2 linked regions of the Homo sapiens genome follow. The protein of the gene in region 2 purifies or fractionates together with the protein of the main gene of each other region. This does not show direct contact. Each region holds a gene or a part of one and is shown on either strand. Other genes may lie near its edges. The genes, in order: ZNF644 and CHAMP1.

Region 1 (10,327 bases), on a different chromosome or scaffold from region 2:
AAAATGTTGATGAAAATAAATACTTTTGAGGTGACCAAATGTGTATCTTTATACTTCATGCCTGACTGTAAGGGAAACATTGCTTTTTATAATGTAAACTACTCATCTTGGGAATAATGAAGTGGTATAGCTAGGAGCAAAGAACTGATGTTGATAGGAGTAGGGGAGTCCTTTTCAATTTTAATACTGTGTAGAGTGGGGATTTAACAATTTTTCTCAGCCTTTTTTTTTCCTTTTTTGAATGGGCCGAGAGATTGAGGGGTGGAACTGAATGCAGCCTTTCTCATTTATGATAGTAGATACTCAGGTCCCAGGGCTGCTATTTGCAAAGTCCAATGCAAAATGAGTTATGTGGTAGACCTCGTTCAAAAATTAATAGTTTCAAGGCTGCAACAGTAGAGCATTAAACTGAGTGTGGGGCTCTCCCTATGTGACTGTGTAAGTTGGACACCCATGAAGCTGGTCTCCTAGGCACTTTGTACAGAAAGAAAGATAAAAGCTGAATAAATGAAACTTTGGCTTCTCAGCAATTGGCTTTCTCTACCCCATTCCTGTTTTACACAAGCTAGCATGTTTTTGTTGTTGTTGTTGTTTTCTAAAAAAAGGCCCTGATTCTTTTTCATTTGAGGCCAAAGGAAAGAAAATTATATTTGCAGTCTTTTTATATGCTTGGGGCTTATGAACCTTGAAGGATTAGTGACAACAGTTATAATTGAATTTATTACTAACACAGGAACAGAAAACCAATACTGAATGTTTTCACTTATAAGTAGGGGCTAAACAACGAGAACACATGGACACAAAGAAGGGAGCAACAGACTGGGGCCTACCTTAAGGGTGGAGGGTAGGAGGAGGGAGATAATAAAAAAAACTACCTATCAGGTACTGTGCTTATTGCCTGGGTGATGAAATAGTCTGTACACCAACTCCCGTGACAATTTACCTATATAACAAACCTGCACGTGTACCCCTGAAGTTAAAATAAAGGTTTAAAAAAAAGAGTTGAGTTTATTTTTCTTACACTTGTGTATCCTTTGGCATGTGTGCATCCTCTTCCCACCTCACCACTGCCAGCACGACCTCCAGCACCAACTTTTTAATAGTGATAGAATGATGATTTACCTGTTCGTGTCATGTTTATTCCTACTGTAGTTCTGAATGAGCTCATAGCTAATATTGTCCACCAAACTTAACACAGGCCAACCACTTAGAGAAGAAATTTTCTTCCCTCTCGTAGGGGTATACTGTGCCTCTTACTTTGGGTATAGATACCCCAGTTGTTTCACTTTGTCCTAGAGATACCAGCAACCAATTAGAAAAGAAATGGATTAAACAAGACTTTTAAGTTATTGGGCAGGTGAGAATGATTACAAATAAAAATACTTCGGTGGCGAATGTTAATTTAGTTATGGTGTGCTTTATCAAAGAAGTTCCAGATGTTTTTATGAAATCTCATTCTCTTGGGTCATTTATATCGTGAAGGAAAAAGAAAATGAAACTCATTGAAGCAATTATTGTATAAAATGGGCAGAAAGGTGGAAAGAGCAAAAGATTTTAATGTCAAAGTCAAAAGTAAATTCTTAATCTTCTTTGTATAAAACTAAATAATGGCTCAGAAAACAGACTTGAATTTTTATGTGTTGTGTTATCTATTTATTTGCTTTGCACCAATCTGGTTTAGTGCTTTGGCATGTTGTTGTCGTCATGGTCATTGGTCGTCGTATTCATAGCATAGCAGTGTGGTGTTCTTTTTGAGGACTCATGAGTTTATTGTATTTCTCTTTCATATTTGTATTTGACCAAGACAAATATCTTACTGAAAGGTATATTCTATTTTTTTTTTTTGCATTTGACCTTACAGCTCAATTTATTCTCCGTATGAGTAAAATATTCTCAGTAGCAATTTAGATCTTTTATAAATCAGGTAACTTGAAAGATAACAGTCTTTTGGTTGAAATTGATCACTTAAACAGTTTCTGCCCACCGAATAGTAATCTTAGGAAGGTTTGGATGACTGGATTTGTTTCTTTCTATAGAAGCTTATGCTTGAGAAGAAAATTAATACTTTCTAAAAATAATTTTTTAATATATTTAAAGTATAGAAACAATGTTAGATTTAAAATACTTTGTAAAGAGAAAAGAGTGTGTGGGTTTTTTGTTTTTAAGTTCCTTGGAGTTTTTTGGTCACTAACAAGTGCAAATAAAATCCTATTACAAAAAAAGGCTTTGTGTAACAGTTATCTATTTGGCAGATTATTCATATAAACAACTCTGTTAAAGCTTTGGCTGTTTATCACAGATACTGATGAGCTGCATTATATTAAAACTGAATGTGTTAGTGATCTGTATTTAATGTTCTAGTGGCTCCTGGTACAGTCCAGAACAAAACTACTTTTCCCTCTAGATATAATAAAATCTCTTAAGTGAGAATATTGGTATAACAGACATGTTTCTACCTCATCCTTTTCATTTATTGAAATTTTCTGTGTAAATCATCCTTTTATGTAGAGGATCCTATATAGATGTCCCCTTTTTGTGCAGTTTTAATATGTTAAATACTCAATTTTAAACAGATTTTCCCAAAGGTATGGGCAGTATCACAGGAGTGGGTTTGGATATTGGCATTAGAAAAACTATTGTAAAATATGTTCATGTTTCACCTGCTCAAAAATATAACATTTCAGGAGATAATAAATCTAGAATTGATGAAGATATTAAAACACTGAGGCATTTAGATTTCAATTTCCAAAGTTCCCAGATTTTTAATATTTTAACTTTGTGAATAAGTTTCTAGGGATTCTCAGTGCATGAGATTCTGTAACCTTAACTTTGGAGCCCTGGGTTCTAGAGATGATTGATCAGTCATAAGCTGGCAGAGTTGTCCTGCTTTCCAAGGTTATAATACCTTCAAATACTCATTGCTACAAAAATGATGGCATTCTCATTTCAAGTTTAGATCTGATCATTCATAAAACAGCCTAAACTTAAGAGTTTCCACAGTCCATAAAGCATCAAAAGCCATAAAATAATTCTTTTTTCCCTATTAAAGAAAAAGCCAAAAATATTTCTGTATTTTAGAATAAACATTTCCAGTTCCATTTTTAAAATATTAACAACATGTAAATTTAAATGCTTTTGTAACTGATAAAATGTTCTTTTGCATATTTCCCTACCATCCTCCTGCCCTTCTTCCTCAATTTGCTTTACACCCCTAACATTAACATTCTGTGAACAAATTTTTAAGGGTTGTTATAATGTATTCTATTTGTATCCTACAGTAATTTATTTGCATTTTAAAAGGAGTTTGAATACAGTGTGGCAATTTTGACAACCAGCAAGCTCATCAAAGTAAGATTCTACCTGTAATCTTATGATACACCAAATGCCTGCTCTATTCTGCCTAACACAGACAAGGATCCATCTTTACAGATGGAAAGAATAGCTGACATCTAGTAGCACTTACTCTTTGAGTTCCCTGAACTCTATTTCTAGTGTATGAATCACTCATAACCCACTTAAATTCAGATTGCTCACCAAAGCGATTAGGAAAAAGGTTTTTCCTACTGGGTACAAAGCATAAGGTATTTCACTCTTGTAGTTGTTGTGAATAACCTAGTTTCTGTACATAAGCTGGCTGGTCAGTGATTTATATCTAGGATAATGAAGTATGTGTGACTGCAGCAACATATTTAAACAAATGATGCACAATGTTGTACAGGAATATTACCTGTATTAAATAGGAGTAAAACATTTTCATTCATAGGCTGTCTAAATATCAATGGTTAAATTACTGAGTTTTGCTTTATTTTTACTCCAGAAGTATTTGTTGAGTTCCTACTACATGCGAGGCTCTTGACTGAGATAACTAATAAGATCCTTATAAGATTTTTCTATTCCAGAGTTTGGTTGTTTAGCTTTGAATTACCCATTCTTTAATACCTAACTTGACTTCTAGTAGTTCTTTACTTATTAGACTCTTCTTCTAAGGATAAACAGAAAAAGACTGTGTCCTAGATTTTACTTTTGAATAGGCAGGTGACAGGAAGCTGAAACCAGTGGCTTCAATGAGATTTAGGTTTCTTGTGGTTTTGAATTTTCTATATGACATTTCTGTTATCATTGCCATTTGACTAAGGAACTATGTTTACTGGTTTTGTAATAGTAGCATCTATTCTTTTGGAATCTGGACTTTGAACAATTCGTTTCACAGAGTCATTGAACAGCCAGTTCCTTCTCTCTTACTTAGAATTTTTCCAGGGAATTTTTCACATGGCAGGATAATGGAAGAAAAGCCATTTGGGTAACTCTTCTGTTACATTTGTATCCCTCCCCCCTTGGATCCCTACAGATAAATTCTTACCTTCTCTTCCTGCTAATTGACCAGCAGCACCCTGGATTGCTATCATCCCTTTGTCCAAAGAAATGGTGTAGCTGTATTCAAAGACCTATAAAATGTTATGTGCTATCTATTGCTACCTATAAAAAATACCTTTTTTTCTTTTTAAAATCAGGTTGTTTTAGAATAAATAAAGGAAAAGTCAATTAATGGAAAAATTTCAAGAACAGTTCACATAAAATTTTGGTCTATTTTAATTTTTTTTTTTACCTTTTCAAATCACATTTTAAAATAAGCAGTTGGAGAAAATGTAAAATGAAAAATATGTAAAGAATAGTTAGCATTAAACATCAGATCCAATTGTAAACTTACGTGAGATAATATGGATTTATATTTATTTTCTAGTAAAATAAAACTTATATGATTGCATAATTGATTATTGTATATGCAATACAAATTAAGTTCAAAAATGAAAGTTGAGCTTTTTTTGTCCTTTCAAATGTAGGGCCAGCATACAATTTTAAGAGCTATTTATTATAAAATTCATGGTGAATCACTATGAAAATTGATTTTTCCTTGAGCTTTTAATTACATTATCCATATTCCCTTACGAAGTTTTCCAAGTATAGAAGACCTACTTAATGGAGCAGTAATCAAATGCAAACTTAATTTAATGATCTCAAATAAAAGGTTCTACTTTTCTGGAAATAAGATTAAACCAGATATTAAAATTATGTATGATTATAAAAGTAAAGATTACCATTATTGTAATAATTGACCAATTTAGTACTTTCAAGTTATTTAGTTACATTTTCTCAGTTCTAGTTTGGTGTGGTAAAGCATTATTTGAAAAGGCAGTATAGGAAGAATACAGATAGTATTCTTCAGTACAGATAATACCGCTGTACAGTACAGATAATATTACTGCTATTACAGAATCAGCAAGTTGAATGCATGCTTCAGGGAATAGGGAAATGAATGCGGACTTTTTCTAACTGATTTAGATGGTCTGTCTGACCTCTCTAGAAAAATATGTGTGTATGTATATTTTGAAATATATAAGGAATGTTAAGTCTTTCTCTTCCCCTTTTTAGCCTTAGATTGTAAGCAAAAGAAATCAAGGTCAAGATCTGGAAGCAAGAAGAAAATGCTAACATTACCTCATGGTGCTGACGAGGTTTACATTCTCCGATGCAGGTATATGCCTATATTGCCAAATCTGATCAGTTTCTTCATACTTTGCTTTGAAACATATTAGCTATTTCATTTGGGATTTTTAATTTGTGGCAGAGTGCATTCTCAACAATCAAGTTATAAATGAACTTTTGGAGATAGGCTTAAAATCTTAATTCAGCTCACAATATCCGTACTTCAACAACTAATGAATCAAGTTTTTTACATTAGCCAATAGTAATGTAAATCTATTATACTGTGATTTATTAAAGTAGCTTGGCCAGGTGTGGTGGCTCATGCCTGTAATTCCAGCACTTTGGGTGGCCAAGATGGGTGGATCACTTGAGGCCAGGAGTTCAAGAGCAGCCTGGCCAACATGATGAAACCTCGTGTCTACTAAAAATACCAAAATTAGCCAGGCTTTGTAGCGGGTGCCTGTAATCCCAGCTACTTGGGAGGCTGAGGCAGGAGAATTGCTTGAGCCCAGGAGGCAGAGGTTGCAGTGGGCCGAGATCGTGCCACTGCACTCCAGCCTGAGCGACAGAGCAAGACTCTGTCTCAGAAAAAAGAAAAAAAAACTGGCTTTCCTTGTGTTTATTTGGTTTGTATGGTTTAATTTTGTTTGGTTTGATGTTTTGTTGTCTTGAGTTCTCGCTTATTGGGAACACATTTTCTCTCCCCTCATAGTCACGCCTTCTTCCGTACTCACACTCACACACAACACACATGAAGAAACATAGACACAATGCCATTTAAGGAATGCTAAACTGGGGAAGGGTCTTTTCTAAAGAATGACATATTTTGGAGTAATAGTTGTTGTTTCAAGTGAATTAAGATGTGTAGATGTTAATTTTAAAATAATAATGCTCCCACCTATACAAAGATTACTGGAGTTTATTATAGCTGTTAATAAACATATGAATTGGGAGTTTTGATGTTTTATTAAATCATTTGACTTTAGAAACTTTATCAATTGCTGTCTTTAAAATATGATAAAGTTTATTCCTTATGTTTTAGGATTTTGTGTGAATTAGTTTTAAAGAAAGAGAATTGGTCATGTTAAGAGAATTGTTATCTTTCTGTAGGTTTTGTGGCCTAGTCTTTCGAGGACCCTTGTCTGTTCAGGAAGACTGGATTAAGCACTTACAACGACATATTGTAAACGCTAATCTTCCACGGACTGGAGCTGGCATGGTGGAAGTCACGTCACTACTTAAAAAGCCTGCCTCCATTACAGAAACTTCATTTTCTCTACTAATGGCCGAAGCAGCTTCATAGAACCAGGAAACCTTTTAAATAGCCAGTTTGAATTGGATGTAAATTTGAAATTCTTTTTTTTTAAGCCACATTAAATTATCTGTTTATAAATACTAAAGCAGGAAAATGGGGGGAAAGTGAATTACAGTGACATCAGAGCAAATTGAATACTTAAAACAGTAAGTAGTCTATATATTTTATATAGGGTGGAAGATGTGTTTTTAAGGTTTATGAAGTTTTGTTGGTTAACTGTGTTCACTCAGTAAAAGAGCAGTACATGTAAGCAGCCATTAATAAACTGTTGCACATGGATACTTATAGACAGACTTATTGGACAATTATGTTTTTTGCAGTGTTACCAGAATCAAGGCTCTGTTTATTCCCCACAAGACTTGCATAGAAAAATAAGATATTATATTTTGTTTGTATGTATTTAGTGTTTTGTATAATACCAAGAACCGCTGACTAAATTTACTCAAATTAGGGCATTAAATATCATGTACTTCATAGTTTGAGACTGTTCACTCAAATAGGGCAGAGTACTATTCTATCTAGATGTGTAAGTGTTTTTTTTAAAATCACATGGAACGGTTTTTTTTATACTAAAAAGTGGAGGGAGATTTGTTTAAACAAGTATTTCTAAAAGAAATATGTACATAGTTCTGGAAATTATTTGTGGTAAGGAAATATTCTTTACTCCAGTTGCATTTCTCAGACAATAAAGTGGTGCATCCATGCTACCTCCTACTTTGTCAACAAAGATGCTATTTACCCTTTACATTTTTGTATCATAATAGATTTTAAAAATCTAATGTTCTTTATTGCAAGACATTCTTTTGTTAACAGGTTTGTTTCTTTTTAATGTTTTACCTAAAATTTGACATGCTTACAGGACAGGTTTGCCTCTTACTTTATTTAACATTGTAGAAATGTAATTAATAAACAATGCTCACTACACAGTTTAGAATAGACGTTCTCATTTATATTATCTTCCAAATTTGATCAGTTAGCAAAACTTAATACACCAATTAAAATATTTCTACATATGAGAATGTTTACAATTTAAATTTTAGAACTTGTTTTGGATGTGATTATATGTACGAAAATCGTGTAACACTATGCTCATGCTAAGAACCGACATAACAGAATTACTGAAATAAATGTGCTGTGAGGAATGGAAAATATGGTGCAGGTGTCTTGGTCATGATAAATTGTGATTCTTTTTAAAAATTTTTTCCAAAAACAATTAGGTATTTTAATCTGAAATCAGATTCCTTTACAAACAACAAGTTTTTGTATGCAAGCACCATTTTATTTCATGTAGTATGGCTAATACTATAGTTGAACCAAGGATATGCATTGATTCTTTGCTTCGTATGTAAATAAAGTTAAAAACAGTTAAAATAAGGAGTATTTTGGTAGAGTATATACATACCTCACTGCCAGTGAAATTGCTTTCCTATGGTATATCTCCTTACCAGAAAAATCTCTAAATAAAAAAAGGTTTAAAGAAAATTAAAATGTGAAACATTTCTTATTTTTATCATTGGTGGTAATAGTTCACTTCAGGTTGTGTTTCATTGGATTTAAATTGTTTATCCTTGCCAGGTTACTTGGATCACAGAGCATAGTTTTTCTAGAATCACCTCATTGGTCAATATAATGTATGTGAGAAAAATCATTTTCCCCCTTTCATGATTAATCAAACCTCTAAATTCAGAGCCATCTTATATGCAAAATTAGAAGGTTGGACTAGTTGGATCATTCCCAACCAAGGGTCTCCTGATCCTTAGGTTAATAGATAAGGGAATAGTACTTGTAAGTTATTTTCAATTTTACAAAAGTCCCGATAAAAACTATGTATTTGTCTATAGTGACAAAACTAACTAAAACATCCCATTTCTTTACTTTTGACTGAAAATATACCAAGTCTGTATATATTGGTTATCTCTTACTGAACAAGTTTCGTTGATAGTTATATGTCTTTGAATATATATTTTTAAATTGGAAGACATACTACATAGCAAGTGGAGTCCAGAAGTAAAAACCAAACAAACAAACAAAAATCATAGGAATCTTGTGGGAAGGCTAGTAATCACTAGAGCCCCTTTCCACTCTAATTCTTTTTTTTTTTCTTTAAAGACAGAGTTTTACTCTGTCACCCAGGCTGGAGTGCAATGGTGTGATCATATCTCACTGCAGACTCAACCTCTCAGGACTCAAGTGATCCTCCCACTTCAGCCTCCCAAGTAGCTGGAATTAAAAGCACATGTCATCACTCTTGGCTAGTTTTTGTATTTTTCGTAGAGACAGAGTTTTACCATGTTGCCCAGGCTGTGCTTGAACTCCTGGGCTCAAGAGATCCTTCCGCCTCCGCCTCTCAAAGTGTTGAGATTACAGGCATGAGCCACCACACCTGGCCTCCTAATTCTTACACTTCTATGATTTTGTCTTATCAGGCCAAATATCAACATGTGTGAATACAAGTAGAAGAATTAGTTTGACCACAAGTTTCGGAATCAAAACTACATTTAATTTTAAAATATGTTGAACTATATGTAAACAATTATTTCTCCTTCTAGTTATATAAAGAATTCAGTCATCAGAATAAAATATTTCACATCAGAAACAGTAGACTAGAGTGACTCCTGAAAAGTAAATTAAGCAAAGAGCATTTTTCATAGTAAAGATATTTGGGTTACAAAATTTAAAGAATTCTTTAGGAAGCATTCAAAATTCGTCTTTTATTTGGCAACTAGAAAATTAATAATATGTTTTCATTTGGTTCCCACTAGAAGAAAAGTATAAAATATTGTCTCAATTTACATGATAGATTTTTATGTCAGCATATGGCCTGATTTATCATTCAGTATTGACTAATTTTCTTTTAATTCTTTTACCATTGCCTGAGATATGCAAGCTTCTAATGCTAAATTAGGGCTTTAAAAAATTCCAGTCTGGGCCAGGCGCAGTGGCTCACGCCTGTAATCCCAGCACTTTGGGAGGCCGAGGCGGGCGGATCGCGAAGTCGGGAGATCGAGACCATCCTGGCTAACACAGTGAAACCCCGTCTCTACTAAAAATACAAAAAAATTAGCAGGCGTTGCTGCGTGCGCCTCTAGTCCCAGCTGCTGGGGAGGCTGAGGCAGGAGAATGGCATGAACCTGGGAGGTGGAGCTTGCAGTGAGCCAAGATGGTGCCACTGCACTACAGCCTGGGTGACAGAGCAAGACTCCGTCTCAAAAAAAAAAAAAAATTCCAGGCTGCAGTGTTGATTTATTTAATGGCTTCAAGACAAAAAGGTTAACTTCTATGTATTATTTTCCACTATACTTCTTTAGAGTATATTAGAACTGTGGCATAACTCATATCTGTATTTTAGATTTTACTTATTTAATTATGGGTTGGGGAGATAATGATTTCTCAGTAATTTACTAGACAAACTTTTTTAAAGGACATATACATAACTTCTCAAGGACTGTCCAATTAGAATACAAAGTCCAAAGGATCACTCTGGGTTTTTCCTCACTAAGAAAATGTAATAGACCAGGCACAGTAGCT
Region 2 (9,495 bases):
AAAAAAAAGGGAAATTATGAGTGTTGGGGATGTGGAGAAATTGAAGCTCGGGTGCATTGCTGGTGGGAAAGTAGGGTGGTGCAGCAGCTATGGAAATTGGTAGTCGTTCCTCAGTTCTAGGTTTATACCCCCAAAAATTGACAGCAGAGACTCAGATACTTGTTCACAAATGTTCATCGCAGCATTATTCAAAATCCAGATGTCTATCAACATGTGGATGAAAGGCAAGCTGTGGTATATACATATAATGAATGGACCATTGTTCATCTTTAGAAAGGAATGAAATTCTGATACATGCTGCAATATAAACGAACACATTATACAGTATAAACGAGCACATTGAACACATTATGTTGAGTGAAATAAGACACAAAAAAGACATACTGTATGATTCCCCCTCAGGCACAGAATTGAGATTACCAGCACTGAAAGTGGAGAGTGGAAGTTACTGTTTCATGGGTACAGAATTTCTGTTTGTGGTGAAGAAGTTCTGGAAGTGGATAGTGGTGATGTTTGCACAACGTTTTAGTACTAAACTAACTAAATTGTGCTTTTAAAAATGATTAAATGGCAAGTTTTGTTTTTTTTTTTTTTTTTGAGACGGGAGTTTCGCTCTCGTTGCCCAGGCTGGAGTGCAATGGCCCGACCTTGGCTCACTGCAACCTCCGCCCCCTGGGTTCAAGGGATTCTTTTGCCTCATTCTCCCAAGTAGCTGGCATTACAGGCGCTTGCCACCACACCTGGCTAATTTTGTATTTTTAGTAGAGATAGGGTTTCTCCATGTTGGTCAGGCTGGTTTCGAACTCCTGACCTCAGGTGATCCACCCGCCTCGGCCTTCCAAAGTGCTGAAATTACAGGCATGAACCACCATGTCCGGCCTAAATGGCAAGTTTTTTGTTTTTATTTTTGTTTTTGTTTTTTAATGAGCCAGAGTTTCACTTTTGTTGCCTGGGCTGGAGTGCAGTTATGCGATCTTGGCCCACTGCAGCCTCCGTCTCTCGGATTTAAGCGATTCTCCTGCCTCAGCCTCCCAAGTAGCTGGGATTACAGGCGCCTGCCACCACACCCGGCTAATTTTGTATTTTTAGTAGAGACGAGGTTTCTCCACGTTGGTTAGGCTGCTCTCTGACTTTCAACCTTAGGTGATCCGCCCACCTTGGCCTCCCAAAGTGCTGGGATTACAGGCGTGAGCCTGTGGTGGCGCGCGCCTGTAGTCCCAGCTACTGGGGAGGCTGAGGCAGGAGAATCGCTTGAACCTGGGAGGTGGAGATTGCAGTGAGCCGAGATTGCGCCATTACACTCCAGCCTGGGTGACAGAGCGAGACTCCCTCTCAAAAAAAAATAAATAAATAAAAATGACTCCTTGTGTAAACTATAGACTACTTAATAAATCAGTATTAGCTTATCATTGTAGCAGATATCTCACACTAATGCAAGATGTTAATACAGGTGAAGTATCCTTCATTCGAAATGCTTGGAACCAGAAGTGCTTTGGATTTTTTTTTTTTTTTTTGGATTTTGGAATAGTTGCATTGTACTTACTGGTTAAACATCCGTAATCTGAAATCTAAAATGCTCCTTTTGGCACTCAAAAAGTTTTGGATGTTGGAGCATAATCAGATTTCAGATTTTCAGATTAGGGATGCTCAGCCTGTAGTAGGAAAAACTGGGGACAAGAAGATAGGTGGGAATTCTTGTACATTCCCTTCAGTTTTTCTTCAAACATAAAACTACTTGGAAAATTAGTTTATTAATTTCTTTCTTTTTTGGGTTGGGGGTGAGTATGGAGTCTTACTCTGTTGCCCAGCTGGAGTGCAGTGGCTCAGTCTTGGGTCACTGCAACCTCCGTCTCCCGGGTTCAAGCGATTCTCCTGCCTCAGCCTCCCAGGTAGCTGGGATTATAGGTATGCACCACCACGCCCAGCTAATTTTTGTATTTTTAGTAGAGACAGGGTTTCACCATGTTGGCTGTTGGCCAGGCTGGTCACGAACTCCTGTCCTCAAATGATCCGCCTGCCTTGGCCTCCCAAAGTGTTGGGATTACAGGTGTGAGCCACTGCGCCCGCCCAGTTTATTAATTTCTTAAAGGCCAGGCATGGTAGCTCACACCTGTAATCCCAGCACTTTGAGAGGCCAAGGCAACAAGATCTCTGGAGGCCAGGAGTTCAGGACCAGCCTGGACAACATAGTGAGACCTCATCGCTACAGAAAAAAAAAATTAGCCAGATGTGGTGGCAGGTACCTATGGTCCCAGCTACTTAGGAGGCTGAGGCGGGGGGATCTCTGGAGCCCAGGAGTATGAGGCTGCAGTGAGTTGTGATGGCGTCACTGCACCAAAACCTTGGGCAACAGAGCGAGACCCTGTCTCTAAAAAAGAAAAAAAGTCCGCTAAGATAAAGAACAATGCTAGTGTGTATAGACTAATAGAACCCATTTAGCTTTGAACATGTTCTACTTATTGAATTTTAATTTAAAAAACTATGCATCAGATGTGTTTTAAAAGATGATCAGTGGTGTTCGACTTCAAAGAAGAAATTGAATGGGAGATGGGAAATAGGTATGATACACCATCTGGCATAACATTGCATTGAAGGATACTGGGTGATAGACTGGCAGAGCACCAATGATTAGAATTTAGGTTTTTTAGAGACGAGATGTAATCTGTCTCAAAGACAAAAAGAAATTTTTGTTAATCTGGACAATTCTGAGTTAATTTTTAGTTAGGGTTAGGAGTTCTTAAATTTAGGAAGAAATTTTGCTAGAACCTAAAAGCTGGAAGGACGCCCAGCTCTCTAGGCTTTGCCTAAAAGTTGAATTCTGGGACTAAATTCTGTAACATCTTCGTGGATCGTTCTGCTACTGTGGGAAAGACAGCATTTTGTTACAGCAGAGACCAGAATTGAGAAAACCAGAATAAAAAAACTGTTCCCTCTGACCTCAGTGTTGTGATCTTTGACAGGTCACTTCTTTCCCTCAGCATCAGTCTTTTCAGTTATAAAATGAAGAGGTTGAACTCAAGACCTCTGAAGATCCTTCTAGTCCTATGCTGATCATCATTTTTTTTTTTTTTTGGTTTTCTTTTTTGAGACAGGGTCTCACTCTGTCATCTAGGCTGGAGTGTAATGGTGCAGTCTTGGTTCACTGCAACTCCTGCCTCTCAGGCTCAGGCGATTTCTCTTGCCTCAGGCTCCCGAGTAGCTGGGACTATAGGTGCATTCTGCTGCACCCGGCTAATTTTTGTATGTTTTGTAGAGACGGGGTTTCGCCGTGTTGCCCAGGGTGTTCTTGAACCCCTGAGCTCAAGGGATCCACCTGCCTCAGCCTTCCAGAGTGCTGGGATTACAGGCCTGAGCCACCACACCCGGCCTGATCATCAGATTCTAATTATGGAGTACTCCTACCTGACAAAGGAACTCGTTCTAGTTCATGATAGAGTAGATTGTAAACTGTGTTAAGCCACAATTCTTTTCCTGCTAGCTTCTGATTGTCACTTCTAGGATAGCTCATATATTATCTATAATTCTTCCCCTTTTGAAGTTAAATGTCTTTATTTGTAAATGACTTTTTTTTTTTTAAAGGGCCATCTGCCATCCTGGTTGCCTTTTTTTTTTTTTTTTTTTTTTTTTTTTTAATGTTCCCTAGTTTGTTAGAGACTCTCTTAAAGTGTCCTTCCTGCCCAGAGCTGGGGACAGTGATCCACTGGAATAGTGTACTCTGCCCAGTGCAGAATATGGGATATAGTTCTCTATAGTCCTGTATTTATGCACTTGATATGTGGATTCTAAGTGTTTGTTTCATCTTGTTTATTTTGGACTATTGTACAGGCTTTAAAAGATCTTACTAAATTCCACTGTATTAGTTTGTGTATATCTACAAAGAACCTGGACAGATAGCAGAACTTTATTCTCTCATCAGATACTGATCATTTGTCTGATTTGGGCAAGCTGTTTAATGTCAAGCTTGAGTTTCCTTAACTATAAATTGAAGTTTTAAAGTAGATGATCCCTGAGGTCTTTTCCTACCCTCAAATCCTATGACTTTGAGACTAGATGGTAACTTAGGTTTCCTCTAGTTTTAAAATCCTGTGAGTCTAAGATTGAGAGAATGTTAGGATTGAACAGAGCACATACTGTGTGTCAGGGATGTGCAACGGTTCCAGAGGTGAATAAAGGGATAATAGTCCCTCCTCTCCAGGAGCTGGCATCCTGTTTTTGGTATCAGGCTGTAGTGCCAGAGGGTGACATGTACAGCTGGGGCTTCTAGGAAGATTGGGAAGAAGTGGGGAATTGACCAGTACAGTTGACTCATGAATAACAGAGGTTAGAACTTCAACCAAATGCCAATAAAAAAGAGCGTTTACAGAATGTGAAACATTTATATGGAGGGCAGATGTTTCATATATGGGAATTCCACAAGGCTGACTGTAGGACCTGAGTATGTGTGGATTTTGGCATATGGGGGAAGTCCTGGAACCAGGTCCCTGTGTTTACAGAAAGACAGCTGACTTAAAAAGCTGTCCTGCCTGAAGGATGAAGGAGTTTGCCTGATGGCCGGGTGGCAAGACAGGGAGTGTAAAGGAGAGGAAATAGTTTATACAAATGCACAGACGCTGGAATAGTCAGGGAGTTACATGTGGGCCAGTATTTTGAGAATGCAGTCTGGTCATGGGCCAGACTGTGAAGAGCTTTATATGCCATATTCAAATTGTATACTGTAGGTGTCTTAGTTGACTTGGAGGACATGTGAACAGGCAGATCACATTAGGCTTCTGTTTGGAAGACAGGTTTGGTAGCTGTACGATGAATGGGTTGGAAGAAAAGGAGACTAGTGGCAGGGAGTTCAGATGTCAGAATTAAAGCAGTGATAGGGGTAGGGGATAGAGAAGGGGTAGATGAATGTGCTGGAGCTAATCAGAAGCATAATATGAGCTGTTGTGTAGCTTGTGCATGGCCAGTTTATCACATTCTGTTCCTGTCAGCAGACTCACCCACACCATGATGCTTTATCTTTGAAATGCATGCAGGAAGAGAAGAGGGCAGAGCAATCACTGAAGCAGGTCCATGTGTTCTTCCTTGGGGTCAGGACACTGCCATCCTGCTCCTCCCAGAGTCCTTTCTTTTTGTGCCTCTTGGTCCTCTTTGTTGTGGTGTCCCTTCCTCCACTGCCTGTTAATTTGGCACTCTGCTGTGTAATATCAATAATTGACAAAAGTCAGCCATTGTTATAGTCAGTAGTCACACCAGCAGTCTTCTGAGTGCTTATCAGAGAAGTGAAGTTAGGTGGTGGGTTTGAGAAGGATTTGATTACACACACGGGCATAATTCCATAGTGGATCATTAAAGAGAAAGTAGACAAGGATGGTGTCAGGAGTGGTATCTACTGTAGTCTTTGGTGTCATTTCATAAAAGTAAGTGTTCGGGCTGGGCGCGGTGGCTCACACCTGTAATCCCAGCACTTTGGGAGGCCGAGGCGGGCGGATCACGAGGTCAGGAGATCGAGACCATCCTGGCTAACACGGTGAAACCCCGTCTCTACTAAAAATACAAAAAACTAGCCGGGCGTGGTGGCGGGCGCCTGTAGTCCCAGCTACTCAGGAGGCTGAGGCAGGAGAATGGCATGAACCCTGGAGGCGGAGCTTGCAGTGAGCCGAGATCGCGCCACTGCACTCCAGCCTGGGCGACAGAGCAAGACTCTGTCTCAAAAAAAAAAAAAGTAAGCAGGCTTAGTGGACTGGACTCCTCTCACTGTTAGGGCAGGATGGTGAGAGAAATACACAGAATTCCATTACAGGGGGCACACACGATCACAGATATAGTTTTGATTACTTTTCTTTTTTTTTTTTTTTTTTTCCAGGTTCAACTTCTCATCTTTGTTCTTCTTCATATACTATAGGCTGTTTGCTGTGGTTTAGTCAAAAAGCCATGTAGAATGCCTGCCTTTTGAAGACCACTTTTAAGGTGTCTAGTAAGACAGCAGGTAAGTCTAGTAGGGAAAGCATGCTTAGGAGAATATTTTATGAGGAGAAAATTAAAAAAAAATACCTGGAGTTCTTGAGGAAAATCTCTAAAAGTGTACACGCCCTTATGGATATAATGTGTGTTGTGTGCTAGATATACATAATTTGGGATATGAGAAGTGAATTCTGTAGCATTCTTTGTAGATTTAAGTATGAGATTGGCCTGAAGAGCTGGTGGTAGGCAGCGGGAAGAGGAGGGATGGCTGGGAGGAATGGGGAATGGTAGGTGAGTCAGACTCAAACCCAGCACACCTGAGCTCTTAGTCTCTGTTGTAATTACAATATGTAATATAGTGCTCTTTAATATTAGCTTGGCTGTTCATTATTGCCAGTTGGGCTGTTCATTATTGCCTCATGGGATTATTGAGACATATCCTACGTTTTCCCCTAAAGTCTTCTAGTTTTATTTAACAATGGGCTCTGAGACGGATGGTTAACCCATTATTTTTCCATGCATTCAATTACGTTTGTAAGTTAAAGATCATTTTCAGAGATTTTTCATCAGTACGGAATTATTTATTTTTCTTTTGTTACAGTCCTGGCCCCAAAACAGTTTTCTAAAATACAGGATAACTGCTGGGCAACTCAGAAAGAGTAAATAGTTTCCGAAGAAAAGTATTTGTTTCCTCAAGTATCTGTCACCTTTTTAGCTTTAGATCAAAAAATAAAAAAGGCAAATGATATACCTTGGATAAAAGTGTTAGGAAGCAGTATTGCCAGTGAGAACATCTTTAAAAACAAATTATCAAAGTTAGAAATGTTAATTTTTTTTTTTTTTTTTTTTTTTGAGATGGAGTCTTGCTCTGTCACCAGGCTGGAATGCAGCGGCATGATCTCAGCTCTCTGCAACCTCCGACTTCTGGTCCAAGCGATTGGCCTGCCTCAGCCTCCCAAGTAGCTGGGACTACAGGCACACGCCACCACGCCTGGCTAATTTTTGTATTTTTAGTAGAGATGGGGTTTCACCATGTTGGCCATGATGGTCTTGATCTCCCGACCTCGTGATCTGCCTGCCCGGCCTCCCAAAGTGCTGAGATTACAGGCATGAGCCACTGCGCCCAGCCTATACATTTTTTTAAAATAATGGTTTTGTAATTAATAAAGGGAGAGCCTGCATTTCTAATCTGTACTGTTCTTTGAGGAGGAGTAAATATCATTACCGTCAATAAGGGAAGGTGTTCAGTCTTTCTCATTAAAGAGAAGCACATTAACACAATAGTGAAATACTAGCTTTCACCTAGGTTGTAGCAAGGATTAGGAATTTATAGGAAATTGTCTCTCATATATACACGTTGTTATGCAGTAATAGAAGTTTTTGAGAGTTTGGTAAAATGTATCAATTTTACACACAAATGGCCAAGTAATCCATTGCTAGGAATTTTCCCTGCAGAAATACCCTCACATGCACAGATAAGTACAGGGAAAGTCAGTGCTTATTCCATATGTAAAAATGTCTTAGAGATAAATTCTAAATGAGAGTAAGTTGCCAGATAATATGTTTAATATCCCATTTGTGTAAAGCATGTGTGTTGATCAATATATGCTTAGGACATTTCTTCCAGGACACATGAGTACACTGGCTACCCCTAGGGACTGACACTCTGTATCTCGTACTGTGTGAATGTGTTTTTAACTGTGAGCTTCTATTCCCTTTACTACTTAAGAAGACTGGTTTACAATTTTTTTAAATTCATGTTTTCCGGCAACTGTGTTCCAGCTGCTGGGGTGTCCTCTGATTTGCCCTTTGGTTGGTATGCGCCTTCACATCATTCAGGATCTCTGCTGGAATGTCCCATGCATAGAGGTCTTTTCCAACGGCCTCTACATCACTCTCCACCTTATCTTTCCAACTCATGAACGCCATATTGCAAAGCACTGCTTTAAGCCTAAGTGCCTAGAACATTGTAGGACACAAAGTTATTTATTTATTAAATGAATTAATAGAATACTATATTGGGATAGATTAAACATTACAAAATATGTTGACATGAAATCAAGCCAGCATCATGTTTTAAAGTCATCTTTTTATAGCTAGATTTAATTTATTAAGTGCTTTCTGCAAAAGTTTTAGTCTCTTGTTCATCCTTAAATAGCCAAGATTTAATTTTGATATTCACTCATCTTTGTGTGCTGAGGACTTTTGTACTCGGAGTTTGAGAGTCAAAGTATAAAGCACATGCAATAGCTAATTCTAGAGTCAGGCTCACATCACTGATAGTCCTATAGCCTGGACCAGAGAAAGTCAGGTAACTTCTCTGAACCTGTTTCTTCATCTGTAAGTGAAAATAATAGTTGAGTCATATCATTAGGATTAAATGAGATGATGTATGTGAAACTCCTAGCAGAGTGCCTGGGACTGTTCTATATCTCCTTTTTCTTCAAATTCTCCCTAGAGATACTATCAAATAAAGCACGCACTGTTCTAGACTTAAAATTATGCAGTTATAGAATGGACTGACAGCATTTTATTCAGAATTACAGTTCATGAAAATAATTTATTCCTACTTTATTGCAGCAGTATTGAAAGTTTTTAAAGAATATAACCGTGTGTGTTGGTAACAGACAGAAGAATGGAAGCATTCCAGGAACTTCGTAAACCATCAGCACGTTTGGAGTGTGACCATTGCAGTTTCAGAGGCACAGACTATGAAAATGTACAAATCCATATGGGTACCATCCATCCAGAATTTTGTGATGAAATGGATGCTGGTGGGCTAGGCAAAATGATATTTTACCAGAAAAGTGCAAAGTTATTTCACTGCCATAAATGCTTCTTCACCAGCAAGATGTACTCTAATGTATACTATCACATCACATCCAAACATGCATCCCCAGACAAATGGAATGATAAACCAAAAAATCAGTTGAACAAAGAAACAGATCCTGTGAAAAGCCCTCCTCTTCCTGAACACCAGAAAATACCCTGCAATTCAGCAGAACCAAAATCCATACCTGCCCTTTCAATGGAAACACAGAAACTTGGTTCAGTTTTGTCTCCAGAATCGCCAAAACCTACTCCTCTTACTCCCCTGGAGCCTCAGAAACCTGGCTCTGTTGTTTCTCCTGAGCTACAGACACCTCTTCCTTCTCCTGAGCCTTCAAAACCTGCCTCTGTTTCTTCTCCTGAACCTCCAAAATCAGTCCCTGTTTGTGAGTCTCAGAAACTTGCCCCTGTTCCTTCTCCAGAACCACAGAAACCTGCCCCTGTATCTCCTGAGTCAGTAAAGGCTACTCTTAGTAATCCCAAACCCCAGAAGCAGTCTCATTTCCCGGAAACATTGGGGCCACCTTCAGCCTCATCTCCAGAGTCACCAGTTCTAGCTGCTTCCCCAGAACCTTGGGGACCATCCCCAGCTGCATCTCCAGAATCTCGGAAGTCAGCCCGGACTACCTCCCCTGAGCCAAGGAAGCCATCCCCTTCAGAGTCTCCTGAACCTTGGAAGCCGTTCCCTGCTGTCTCCCCAGAGCCTAGGAGACC

The links.
Region 1: the proteins of CHAMP1 (region 2) and ZNF644 purify together in Homo sapiens (affinity purification with mass spectrometry; 2 studies listed by BioGRID and IntAct, with this or other methods). This does not show direct contact.

The regions. Positions count from the first base shown.
Region 1 is NC_000001.11:90,913,258-90,923,584, reverse strand, and holds the end of ZNF644 (zinc finger protein 644), read left to right. Parts: intron 1-5,430; coding exon 5,431-5,533; intron 5,534-6,594; coding exon 6,595-6,787; 3' UTR 6,788-8,281; downstream 8,282-10,327.
Region 2 is NC_000013.11:114,315,256-114,324,750, forward strand, and holds part of CHAMP1 (chromosome alignment-maintaining phosphoprotein 1), read left to right. Parts: intron 1-5,854; 5' UTR 5,855-5,977; intron 5,978-6,807; exon of another isoform or gene 6,808-8,532; 5' UTR 8,533-8,587; coding exon 8,588-9,495. UniProt on the Homo sapiens protein: Required for proper alignment of chromosomes at metaphase and their accurate segregation during mitosis. Involved in the maintenance of spindle microtubules attachment to the kinetochore during sister chromatid biorientation.